Regions from separate parts of the Homo sapiens genome. Here regions 1 and 2 are each reported to be linked to region 3. Evidence: microRNA targets listed by miRTarBase, many of them from high-throughput screens and not tested one by one. Region 3 holds a microRNA gene; each other region holds the end of a gene's coding sequence.

The links. The annotated mature microRNA hsa-miR-4682 reads UCUGAGUUCCUGGAGCCUGGUCU and lies in region 3 at 1,556-1,578, shown strand. An mRNA with a match to its seed (bases 2 to 7 or 8) in the 3' UTR can be bound and repressed. Matches are read on the target gene's strand: a 7mer-m8 pairs with bases 2 to 8, a 7mer-A1 pairs with bases 2 to 7 and ends in A, and an 8mer does both.
Region 1: the mRNA of FUNDC2 is a reported target of hsa-miR-4682. Seed matches in the 3' UTR shown: 7mer-A1 at 2,399-2,405.
Region 2: miRTarBase lists CEMIP2 as a target of hsa-miR-4682. Seed matches in the 3' UTR shown: 7mer-m8 at 3,384-3,390 and 7mer-A1 at 2,840-2,846.

Annotation. Positions count from the first base shown.
Region 1 is chrX:155,054,013-155,058,253 of GRCh38, reverse strand. FUNDC2 (FUN14 domain containing 2) reads right to left here. Exons shown (of 5, transcript NM_023934.4): 5 at 1-3,659. The coding sequence ends at 3,582. Among named protein-coding and RNA genes, the nearest start is that of CMC4, 15 kb to the left of the region's middle. RefSeq lists enhancers at 526-820, 485-986.
Region 2 is chr9:71,681,291-71,685,491 of GRCh38, forward strand. It overlaps CEMIP2 (cell migration inducing hyaluronidase 2), which reads right to left. Exons shown (of 24, transcript NM_013390.3): 24 at 2,076-4,103. The coding sequence ends at 3,907. Among named protein-coding and RNA genes, the nearest start is that of CEMIP2, 85 kb to the right of the region's middle.
Region 3 is chr10:119,956,967-119,961,209 of GRCh38, forward strand. It overlaps MIR4682 (microRNA 4682), which reads left to right and starts at 1,547; the gene lies at 1,547-1,626.

The sequences.
Region 1 (4,241 bases), not on the chromosome of region 3:
TGCAAGAGATCATTCCTTGTAGAATCTAGTCCGCCAACTTGAATCGTCTTCTGCCAGCATCCATGAGACAGTAACTGCCCAGATCCAGTAGCAAGGACTGTCACCCCAGTGGTAGGGGAGTCAAGAACCCCACTGTCCTGTTAATGAATGTCTGGAGGCTGAGTGGCGGGAGATTGCAACAAACAAGCGGCCATTTGGGAGGAGAGTCATGCTAACATATTATCACAATGGCAATAACACTCATGACAATGGGCTGCTCAGGCAAGGGTCCCCACCACCACATCTCTCCCCGCACCCAGCTCCCGTGTCAGCAATGAGGATACACATTCTTGGGGGAGACTGAAACATTGGACTCCATCTGTTGAGCCCGAGCAGGCAGCGGCCAGAAAGTGCCCCTGGATCCGTCTCTGCTCTCCGACTCTGGGGAGAACCTTGGGAAGAAGAGACTCAAAAGTTCTACCTCTCCTGTAGCATGCTCCAAGTCCCCATCCCACCAGGTCCCATTGCGGGAGAGACGCTGGGTCAAAGGGTGGCTCAAAGTGGTGAGGACGCAGGGCCGACCCATAGTAGCCAGGAAGGGGACAGAAGGGGTCCCTGAGCCGGGACACTGTCCAGCACGCTGCAGGACAAGGGAAGGGAAGCCTTCACTACGTAGATGCCATCCTATTGGTTGACAAGTTGGAAGCCTTGAGTGCGGTGTTACCACGTCGCCGCCACAAGGGGGCGATGAAACCCCGAACACATTCCAAGTCAAGTTTCTGCGGACCATATACAGCGACAACGCTCTTCCCAAGGAAAAACTTCCGCCCCACCACCACTAATTAGGAAGTCCAGAGCGTCATTGGACTCTGCTACTGGAGAAAATACGTGCCTAGCTAAGCAGGCCTCTCCAGTCAAATGAAAGTAGTGCACTGAAAGGTGGAGCTGCCTGGTCCTTGAATCATCTCGGTTTTGCATGGAGGAGTGGCAGCTGTTCTTTTGGGGGAAACCTTAACTCCCACTTCACCACCTGAAACAAAACTGCTGGCACAATAGGGCCTTGATTCACAGGTAACCCCAAATGCCTGAGCCTCCTTCACCGATGGTTCAGCTAAACTGAAAACAAGGTGTGCAGCTGTGCGTGTTCAACCTCCATGCCAGCTCTGCACAATCCCAAGTGGTCACAGTGGCCTCACACCGTGGGCAGAACTCACAGCCGTTCTCATACTAGCAGGATGAGGCCAACCTGCAATACTGACCTCAACCATGACCCTCACAGTCGTAGAGGCAGCCAGCTGGGAAAAAACTTCAGGAGGGACCTACCTACAGATCTTAATTCAGACAATCAGAATACAGTCTGAGGCCAGACTATTTATTACAACCTACTCAAGGTAGTTTACAACCACCTGCTAATCTTTGCTGCCCTCACCAATAATCACAGGAAAAACAGATGCACCAAAAGACAACCCCTACCCCACTGGAGAGGCATTGGGTGGCCAGTCTCCCCACATGCAACCCAAAGGGGCACAGAGCACTTTGGTTAGCTTTGCTGTTACCATCCCATTGCTGTGGGTAAGTCACACAGGTAAAGTGGCTGCAGCCACTATCACCATATATGGCATAACCCAGAGACCCAGATGTCAGGAGAGGCAGAGTGTGGGGAAGCAGGAAACAGATGACTCAGTGTCACTACATATGTCTATATCAATATATATAGAGATATAAATATATAGCAAGCAAAAAAAAAAAAATAGAGGAGGATCTATAAGGTTAAGAGACTTATCCAAATCATGCAAATACGATGTGAACCTTGCATGAATTTTGATTCAAACAAACTAAATATAAAACACTTGAGGAAATTTTGAACACTGATCAGATTTTGGATATTATGTAATTACTGTTAATGTCTGATATGATGAGGTATTTATGATTTTTAGAAATAATTCTTACCTTTTAGAGATACATACTGAAATATGATAAAATGACATTTTGATATTTGTTTCACAATAACTGGTAAAAACCAGCAGAGCTATAATTTGATGATTGTTGTGAGTGAGTGATAGATACACAGGGGGATTATTGTACTATATTCTCTACTTTTATATATTCCTGAAAGCGTCCATAATAAAAAGTGAAAAAAAATAAGTTCTTATAGCAAAATATGCAGCAAAGAGGCTCATACCATTATGGTTTTGAGATGATTCATACATATTGCAAGCAAAATGGCTTATGTTTCCTTAAATGTAAGGAGAAAAACGCAAATAGGTGGTTTCTGTAAAGTTCCACACATCCACTGGTAGTTTTGATTTTCAAATTCAATACATCATTCTCAAGACGGGTTAAAATGCAAACATTTTTAAATGTATGGCCTTAGAAACACACTCATATTTCACAAGAGATCATCTCCAAGATTAACAATTCTGAGTAAAACTAACCTTTAATAGTGAGTTTTCTTTCTATAAAGTCATTATTCAAATACTCAGCACCTATTAAGTGCTAGGCCCTGTGAGTATAATGGTGAAGACAGAAGTCTTGCCCTCTGAAAGCTGACTGATATTCTAGTAGGGACTGTAGACATGGTAACATGCCACTACAGCAAAATGTGGTAAGATTCTGTGTGTGCGTGTGTGCCCGTGTGTGTGTGTGTGTGTAAGCTTTTAAAGAATAATTCTCAGGGTTGTGGTCATCATGAGACGGTAGATTACACTTGATGGAAATTTATTTCTCATGTCCTATCACTATCTTTCTTAATTCTGAATCCCTGGAAAGCTACTTCTTTAAAATTCCGGTTTAAATGTTGTATTTCATACTAACTAGATTAAAAAAAAAAATAGTAGAAGTGGCACAGAGGAGTTATGGCCACCCCTAATGTTTTGATAAGGATATTTCATTCACATTTCAAAGCTTAAAACCTTTTCTACAAAATAAAAATCCAAAATCTTCCCTTTCCCACCTAAATCACTTGTTTTACAATAAATAAACCCTTTGGAAACAGCCATGAGATACATTATCCTGTACGGTAGAAAGCATTCCTGGACAATATCAGATTTTTCAATTACAGTAATTATGCTGCCAATTTTGTCGGCATAATTATAACACATTTAAATAGCTTTCTGTAATGTAAAACCAACTAAAAAAGAAAGTAGACACCAAGATACCAAAATCTTTCATGCTTAAAGGCAAATGTATTCAGTTCCTTTCCATGCAGCACACAATAAGGTTATCTATGTGCTTATTTCTTTTCCAAATCAACAGTTTGGGACAACCTTTCAGGATCCACTCATCCTCCACGGTCAGCCATCTTGTAATGTGTTCTCATAAGTGTCTTGCATGGGGGTAAAGGAACCTTCTTGTTGGCCTACAGACTGGCCAAGTAGGGGGTGTACTGGGAGGAGAGCTAAGGACTATTGTCTCTTCTGCCACCATGAAGCTCATGGTGCCACATTGACTTGTACCAGCAGATGCTTAGAGAAGCCACTCAGATTTGCCATGGCAGGGAAGAAGGCATGGGAGAAGAGGAGGAGGGACTCGATGTCCTATGATGGAGTGTAGAGGCTGCTGGCTGGAAAAAACCAGGAACAATGAACATGAGGTCATCTTCCTTAGGATGCCATGCCAAGCAGAAAGCCTCCGAAAAATCCCCCAGTTACTAGAACATTCTTCTTCACAAATGACACCACCTGAAAACAGAAGATAGTACAATGGGTTGTTTTGCTAAGGATGTTAATAATATTAAGAATCATCTCTATTATACCTATGCCAGTCTTAACAATGTCAATCCCCTCATCGGTTACGTAATTTGCACTTTACCCAAAGGGCAATGGACTTACACTAATAGTCTATTTAATAATAATTAAATAGACTTACATATGAAAATGACTACTGGCTGGTGTGGGGAGAATAAGACTAGAGGGAGCCTGATGGGAAGGAGGATGCACATCAGGAGGTAGAGACAATGGCTCTTTGAATCAAGGACAAAGAAGGAGAGTTCATGGGGACAGTTATGGCGAAAGAGTAAAGCTGCACTAAATAAACTGGTTACAGAGGCAATTCTGTTTCCAATTTTGCTCCTTCCATCCTCTTTGGCATCTACCCTCCAATAGAGGCTTCTCATTTCCTGAAGTCTCTCCCCTAAATCTCTCCATCCATGCATTCCCCCCTGAAACCTGCTCCCAGGTAGATGCTATAAATTCTCATTCTCACACTTCACCACATCTAAGATGATTAACAGGTGACGTTCTTATTTCCTTAAGTTCCCAAAG
Region 2 (4,201 bases), not on the chromosome of region 3:
GGGCACAGTTCCTCATTTAGAAATCACAGTTCAGTCAGTCATTCTCTAAATTTACCACATAAAAATAAAAAGTGTGCGTGCCCTTATCCACAACACCAGGGCCTACTGAAGCATCCTTTTATTAGTTTTTTTCTCAAATTGAAGATAAATAAGGGAAAAACAAAAAAACCTTTTCTCTTCCAAATGACTCAAATGGTCTAGCAAGTCTGTGAACAGCATTTTGCCATTTGTGAGCAAGGAACCAGGAATGGAGTTCCTTTATTTTTTTTCCCTCCATGACCTTTTGTTGAAAACTAGCTTAAATAGTGTCTGCTCACATTTCCAGCACACTGGGTTATAACAGTAATAATGTAATCATAACTAACAGTAATGATACAAATCTGCTGCCCTATTAAAGGTCTTTACCTCCAGGGGAATTTCTCAGGTTATTAAACATTGTTTAATAAGTATCTGGAAACCAAATAAGAATTCCAGAAGTAAGCTCCAACTCTGCATGATGAAATTAACAAACATTGTCATCATTGAATCTATGTATTGTGTTTATCTACTAGGAACAACAGAAAAAAACACTTGAACTAACTAAGCTCATTCCTTCTTACTGAAATGCTTCTCAACCAGACACATCCAAACATGACCTCATCTCTTAAGGAATGAAAACCTACTGTAGTTATCTAAAGCACTCAAGCCTCGATCTGTCACTTCATTACCTTCCCCTCCTCAAGACAAAGTAACCCACTTTAATGGCATGAGGATGTGTTGTCTCTTGATGAAGTTAGAGAACAGAGGAGTCATAAATCCTCTCTTCCCATCCCCGAGTCTAAACATCAGCTTAGAGGCTGCTTTGCAGTCATAGTCCATGAGATGGTGCGTCTGCCTTTCATCTTCTTGCCAGCACTCTCTTCCAGCCTCTGAAGATAATATATGGCATGCTGACTCAGGTGGAGAGGCAGGAATCACAGCAAAGACTTAAACCCTAGTCTGTGGATACATGAGAGCCCTCTGTGTTGCTCGTCAGCTGGCTGATTTGTGGACGACCACATTTTTGGAGCTCAACCAACTGCCTCACCTGATGGAAAATGCTTATGAACTTATAAATCACCTTTGAATATATTTTCTTGGTAGAAATAGAACAGATTGCTAGCTCCCAATTCCCTGAAATGTATATATCAGTGTATAGAACCAATTTAATGATTTGAGAGGACTGAGGACTAAAAACTGTATTAAAAGCTTCTATTAAAAAGAGACAATAGAGAAATGCTTTGTTTAGGGCTGGGAGTTTTGTGAGTAATATAGGAAATGCAAATAAAAATAATAGGTAAATGCAATTTTGTTTTAGTCACAAAAAAATTACAGACTGGAGTTAAACAGTGGGCCTATTATATTAGTGCCGTGGTTCCGAAACCTGGCTGCATATTAGAATCATCCAGGGAGCTTTAAAAAAAATTCCAGTGCTCAGGCTGCACCCAACACCAATTAAATCTGAATCTGGGGGGAAGGGAGTAAAGTCCAGGCCTCTATATTTTTTTTTAAAGCTCCTCAGGTAATTCCAGTGTGCAGCCAAGATGGAGAACCTCTGCCTTGGAGAATACAGTCCCTGCCCTTCTGAAGCTTACTCTTACAATATTTACTTGGTGGATTCTGTCCACCAAGTGTCTTCCTCACTTCCGTCAGTAACTTCTTTACAGCTGGAATCTGGAATTTTAAATTTATAGATAGAGATATAAATTCACATACAGGCCAGGCGCGGTGGCTCATGCCTGTAATGCTAGCACTTTGGGAGGCCAAAGCAGGAGTATCACTTGAGGTCAGGAGTTCAAGACCAGCCTGGCCAACACGGTGAAACCCCACTTCTACTAAAAATACAAAAATTAGCAGTGCATGGTGGCGGGTGCCTGTAATCCCAGCTACTTGGGAGGCTGAGGCAGGAGAATCACTTGAACCTGGGAGGTGGAGGTTGCAGCGAGCTGAGACTGCATCACCTCACTCCAGCCTGGGTGACAGAGCGAGACTCCATCTCAAAAATAATAACAATAATAATAAAATAAATAATAAATAAATTCACATACACACATATATAAAATACATGCACACATATTTTTATTTAACTTAGGCCCTGATTATTAGTATATAAAACAGAAAAACCAAGTGCCTTGGTAATTTACATATCTTCTCCAAATCTTTAAAGAACCAAGCTCTAAAAAACACACGTAAAGATATTTAAGTCATAAAACACACACACACACACACACACACACACACACTCTAATGACCTTCAGGAACCATAATCCAATAATATATTTAATAGGTAAGATCTCATTCATCAATATACAAAAAAAAAAAACAAACCAGAAAACAAAAAACTAACTTTGATTAAGACATGTGCCCTTAGTAAGGGCACTTACAATTAGAAAGGTTTATCGGTAGCACTTTGAGGTAGCATATTTTGTAAAGTCACAGGGCTGCTCTGCAGTTTCTCCTGGATACAAAGGTAGAGGCCATCAGCCTTTGCCCCTAGAAGAGGAAAGTGAAATTATCTGTACTCATTGCCAGTGTCAGCCTGAACACACTTTCTACCACCCACCCTTGGCCATCCCTCCTCTACACTTTATGCGTCGGGGGTTTAGAACAACGTAAAGGCATTTTGCTGCTTCTTTCCTCTTGGTACGGCAGCATCCCAGGCTGTGGAGCCAGTTGCCTCTTGCCGCATGTGATTCACCAGCAGGAGACGCATGCACCCTGTGGAAAGGGAAGCTGGGCATCACAGCATGCTTTTTAATTGGCTTTAACATTTCATTAAGTAAGAGTGACTCATTCCTGCAAGGCTTTAAAGAGGTTCATTTCTGAGTATTCTCTCCACGATTCTGACCCTAGAAAGCGCTCCTTTTTTTCCTCCCTGGGTGTAATCATTTTGGGGTATCATTAAGCTTTCTGGGATTTTCCTGGCAGGAGGGTGAACAGAAAAGCTTTAAAAAATCCACACAAAACAATAACAAAAAACCCAAGTGCAAGAGCAATACCAAGAACAGACTTCCTTTGTGCAAGTTAAAATGATACAAGTTTACGGTTCAGGAAAACAACCTACTTCTTAAAACAAAACAAAACAAAACAAAAAAGGAAATATTCAGTTGAGCTCTGCATTTTAAACACAAATATACAGTCAAAAGAGGCTAAGGATTAAAGCTGCAAAAATGGTCCCAACAGCCTCAGACTTTTGCTGCAGGAAAATTTTTTGCCCAATGGTCACAGATTAAAGGGATATCTAATCCCCAAGAGCCCTTTTGTCCCAATATACTTCCTGTTTGAAAGTTTAACCCTTACAAGTAATTGATATATAAGTGAATAAAAATAGCACATGTCCAGGCAAAAAAGGGCATGAGCTGGGCCTGAGTTGCCACTTAAAACTGTCATTCAATATCATAGAAAATCCTCAAAGGCTGCCCAGAAACAGGGCCCCAGGCACTGCTGAACATGCCAGCCACCAAGTCAACTGCCACCCGACCCAACTGAGCATTAAACTTCAAGTATCCAAGGTGCTACAATAGCTGGTCCTCTAAAGACCTCAGGCTGACTCTCAGAAGCCCCCACTCCACCCCACCCCATTATACAAAAAGTAAAAACATTGCTCATGGTCATTACAAAATACGGGGGTGGAAAGTGAGGAATAAGAGATCTGCTCTCTGAATACACCAGCCTTACAAATACAAACAACGTCTTTAACATTTTGTACAACTAGAAGGTGCATGAAGCTGGTATCCAAGCAATAATTTCAAACGCTTTCTTTTCTCCCCATTCTGTATCAAACTGGAAAATGGTTCCGTTGGGTTAACAGTGTCATTTTAAAATGCCATAAATTAAATAAGTTAGTTCACATTTTTTTTCCCCCAGCACTTAAGTTACAGTTAGTCTCTAATGTGCTTTTGAAGCTTGCTTTAGCAGTTCCAGGTCTCTTCTGCGGACAGTGGTGGCTCTGGGACAACCATATTCGTCCAGCTGCAAAGGTATGAATTGTTCAAGCACCCCAAGGCCCTGTCCAGCAGGACTGGTAAATAGCTTAGTCCATGATGGTTTAAAGTTTCCACTGAATCCCAAAAATATGGTACTCCCTAAAAAAAAAAAAAAAAAAGAAAAAGAAAAAAAATCAATTTTTATAGCTACATTCCAGCAAGAGAATATAGGAGGTGAGTCGGAGGTGAGCAAAACA
Region 3 (4,243 bases):
TGATGGCCCAGGGATGGCCACATACTCAGTCCTGGCTGGTGCTGTTGGGGAGACAGCTGGCTAGTGGGGGTGGGGTGCTTCTGGGAAGGCTGCCTCCCTCCCAGGAAGGTCCATATAGAATGTTTTCTGACCCTGATCACAGTCCTCAGGACAGTCATGATTGCTGCTCCTCCCAGTCCCGAGTGCTATTCATGCTTCATCTCCATCACCTCTCATAACAGCCACAGGAGCAGACATTGTCATCTTATTCTACAGGACAAAATTGGGAGTAAGGGAAGTCAGGAGACTTGATTACCATCACACATCTAGTAAGAAAAATTACACATGAAGCCCTTAGGACTGGCACCGAGGAGATGCTGAGTAAATGGCATTGATCATTGTAATACAGGGACTTCCTCATTTCCAGGGAGGAGGGGAAGATCATTTGTCCAGATGTATGTGCTTCTGAATTCACTATTGATTTTTATAGCTTTTCTGTTTCCCCCTTCACCATGTATTGGCATTTGTAAATATAGTCACATGTTTACCTGAGCTACAGTGTAACAGAAAGAACTCCAAGGTCTATAAACCTGGCTTTGAATCCAGGCTGCATTACCTACTAGCTGTGTGACGTTGGAAGAGTTACTTACCAGCCCTTGAGCATGTGTCCTCATTTATGAAACGTGGATAATAATAACCTCCGAAGGCGGTTTGAGGGTAATAAGGTGCTTATTAGCTCATTATCTGGAACACAGTCAGTGCTCAAGAATGCTAGGTATTATTATCCAAGTTATTGTGTAGATGGCTTATTTGGACAGATCACATGAAAGGGCCAAATGAAGGTATGCAAGAGTGCTTTACAAATGCATGTTATTATATTGTTAGAGAAACTCCACTGCATGGAGGAATTTGCTATATGAAAAATGGGCTGGGCACAATAGCTCACGCCTATAATCCTAGCACTTTGGGAGGCCGAGACGGGCGGATCACCTGAGATCAGGAGATTGAGAACAGCCTGGCCACATCGTGAAACACTGTCTATACTAAAAATACAAAAAAAAAAAAAAAAAAAAAAAAAAAATTAGCCAGATGTGGTGGCGCGTGCCTGTAGTCCCAGTTGCTTGGGAGACTGAGGCAGGAGAATCTCTTGAACCCAGGAGGCGGAGGTTGCAGTGAGCCGAGATCACGCCACTGCACTCCAGCCTGGGTGACAGAGCAGGACTCCGTCTCAAAAAAAAAAAAAAGAAAATGAATTGATACAAGAGACGTGCATGCCTAGTGGGCTAGAAATCTTGGTGTGGGGAACAGCATAGCATGAAGGAAGGAGGGAGGGAGAGAATGAGTGAGAGAGAGAGCACAAGTGCCAATTGACTGGGAGTTCCGGGCCACGCATGCATTGCCATGGGGCCTTGTAAAGTGCCCAGGATTTGGAAGGATACTAGGGCTAAAGTGAGAGGGAGTCTCCCAAGGGAATGTGAGCCTCTGGAGGCAAGTGATGGTTTTTTTTTTTCTGAAGCACCCTCAGGAAACTGCCTGGAGCCCTCAAGAACGTGGAGGCCTGAAGTGCTGCCCCTGGTCTGAGTTCCTGGAGCCTGGTCTGTCACTGGGGAAGTCCAGAGCTCCAAGGCTCAGTGCCCAGGGGACGCAGAAGTCACGAGCAGGGTGAAGGTGGACAGTGTCACTGAAGGATCCTAGGCAGGGGGAAAACTGAATCCAAGTCAAAGGGCCAGTACTTGGGGGCTCGACACAGAAAAAGGCTCAGGGGAAACCAGGCGGGAAACTGAGCCCAGAGCAGTAGCTCTGCATTGAGCTGTGGTCCAAGGGGCGCCATTCACTTAAAGCACAATCCCATCACCCTTGCCCCAGGTACACACGGTTACCCTGGCTCGAAAAGTTCCTAAATCAGGGAGTCGTCTATAGCGATTCTGTTCACACGAGACTGAACGCTGCATGCGGGTGGGTCACTAAGCCCCCACGGGAATGTGGATTTTGTGTTTTTATTTTGATGATGATCCTTAGAAAACAAACACACACACGGCCGGGTGCGGTGGCTCACGCCTGTAATCCCAGCACTTTGGCCGAGGCGGGCGGATCACGAGGTCAGGAGATGAGACCATCCTGGCTAACACGGTGAAACCCCGTCTCTACTAAAAATACAAAAAATTAGCCGGGCATGGTGGCCGGCGCCTGTAGTCCCAGCTACTCGGGAGGCTGAGGCAGGATAATCGCTTGAACCCGGGAGGCGGAGCTTGCAGTGAGCCGAGATCGCGCCACTGCACTCCAGCCTGGACAACAGAGCGAGACTCTGTCCTAAAACAAACAAACAAAGCGAAACAAAAACAAAATGCAAAAGCAAACAGAAAACGCCCACAATGTCTCTTTATGGAAGGAGACATCCAACCAAGTCTTTTCCTTCTGGCTTTGTAATCCAAAAATGTCCTTCTAACGTGTGCATCCTCTCAGGATGACACGTGGCACCAGCCAGCAGTCTTCTTGGGTGGATTCTAGGATGGCAGAACATAAAGGAATGGCCTTTGTTTGTTTGTTTATTTAGAGACAGAGTCTTGCTCTGTTGCCCAGGTTGGAGTGTGGTGGTGCGATCTCGGCTCACTGCAACCTCTGCCTCCTAGGTTCAAGCGATTCTCACGCCTCAGCCTCCAGGGTAGCTGGGACCACAGCCGTGCGCCGCCGCACCCGGCTAATTTTTTGTATTTTTAGTAGAGATGGGGTTTCGCCATATTGGCCAAGCTGGTCTCAAACTCCTGATCTCAAGTGATCCGCCTGCCTCAACCTCCCAAAGTGCGGGGATTATAGGCGTGAACCACCACGCCCGGCCAGGAATAGCCTTTGAATTTAGACCAATTCGCTTTCAGATATTGACTCTGGACAATTTTCTTAACCTCACATTTATATTAAGATTTTGTTCTTACAAAAATAATTGTAAAAATTCAAACTATGCAGAGATACACCAGGTAAAAGGTGAATTTCTTCTCTCTCTCTTGTCCTAATCCCTCTCCTATTTACATTTCTCTACTAGATTTTTTGTAGCCCTTTTCCCAATATTTTGTGGTTTTGGTTGTTGTTTGAGTGGGACTTTTAAAAAACAATTTCAAGTTGGTTATTGTTCGTACCTAGGAAAGTATTGGTGACTTCCCATTGGTAGCGTGTCCATCTGCCCCACTCCTTTCTCTCATTAGTGCTAATAGTTTTCAGCTGTTTTTCTTGGTGTTGTTGAGCATTAGTTTTCTCATCTGTAAAATGCAGATAATGTTGACCTTGCAGAGCTTTAATAAGGATTCGATGAGAAAAAGTAAGGAGCTTAGCTTAGTGCCTGGCTCAGTAGGGGCCTGATGAACTTGTACTTTCACTAATATCATCCTCATGATGAGATCTTTTCTGTACAACTCTCTTCTCTGATTGTGGAGAAATGGATTATGGAGAAAAATGATTCAATCAGAGAAGGCTCTGCATATGGCTGCTTATACAGAAAGACTGATGTCAACCAAGGGGCTGCCAATGTTTATGTTTTTACTCTATTAAGGAGGGGAGGGGTGAGGAGGGGAGAAAGAAAGAGAAATGGTTGTACAAATATCTCATGGAGTCTCTGCTTTCAATTCTTTTGGGTATAAACACCAGTGGGTTTTTGAGAGTTATAGATCACTGTGAAAAAAAATCTCTGTGTACCTTTCATGGTGTCAGTAGCTCTGGAAAGAGTGGCCTGACCAGTGCACCCTGTGCTTCTTAGTCTACCGTGACAGGAGGGAGGTGTCTGCATCTGATGGTTACTGTGTGTTGAGCTTGCACAGTCCCCATCAGCCTGCTATCTGAGCGCTCAAGGCTGCAGAAGACCCTGAATGAGTGTGAGATTTGTAGTTGTTATTGTTAACTTTCAAGACTTCCACAAATGTACATTTTTCTATTTTATTGTATAGTTCCAATGGCTAAAATGACCCTGAACAAGGTGCAAAATGCAATAAAGCATCAACAGTGGGCTTTCAGGTAAATAAAAATGCAGCAGGAAGAAACAGCAGCAGGGAAAAAAAAATTACTGGGAAACCCATAATGAAATGCCTGCGCTATCTTTTACATTTCCCCCTGTTGTTTAAACTCTCTATATTATTCAATGCAGCATTGTTTGTAATGGCAGAAGATTGTAAATAACCTCAATGTCTATCAATGGGAGATGGTTGGATAAATTATAGTCCTCCACACCAGGGGATACTGTATAGCTGTAAAGAAGAATGCTCAATCTATTTGTTGAGAA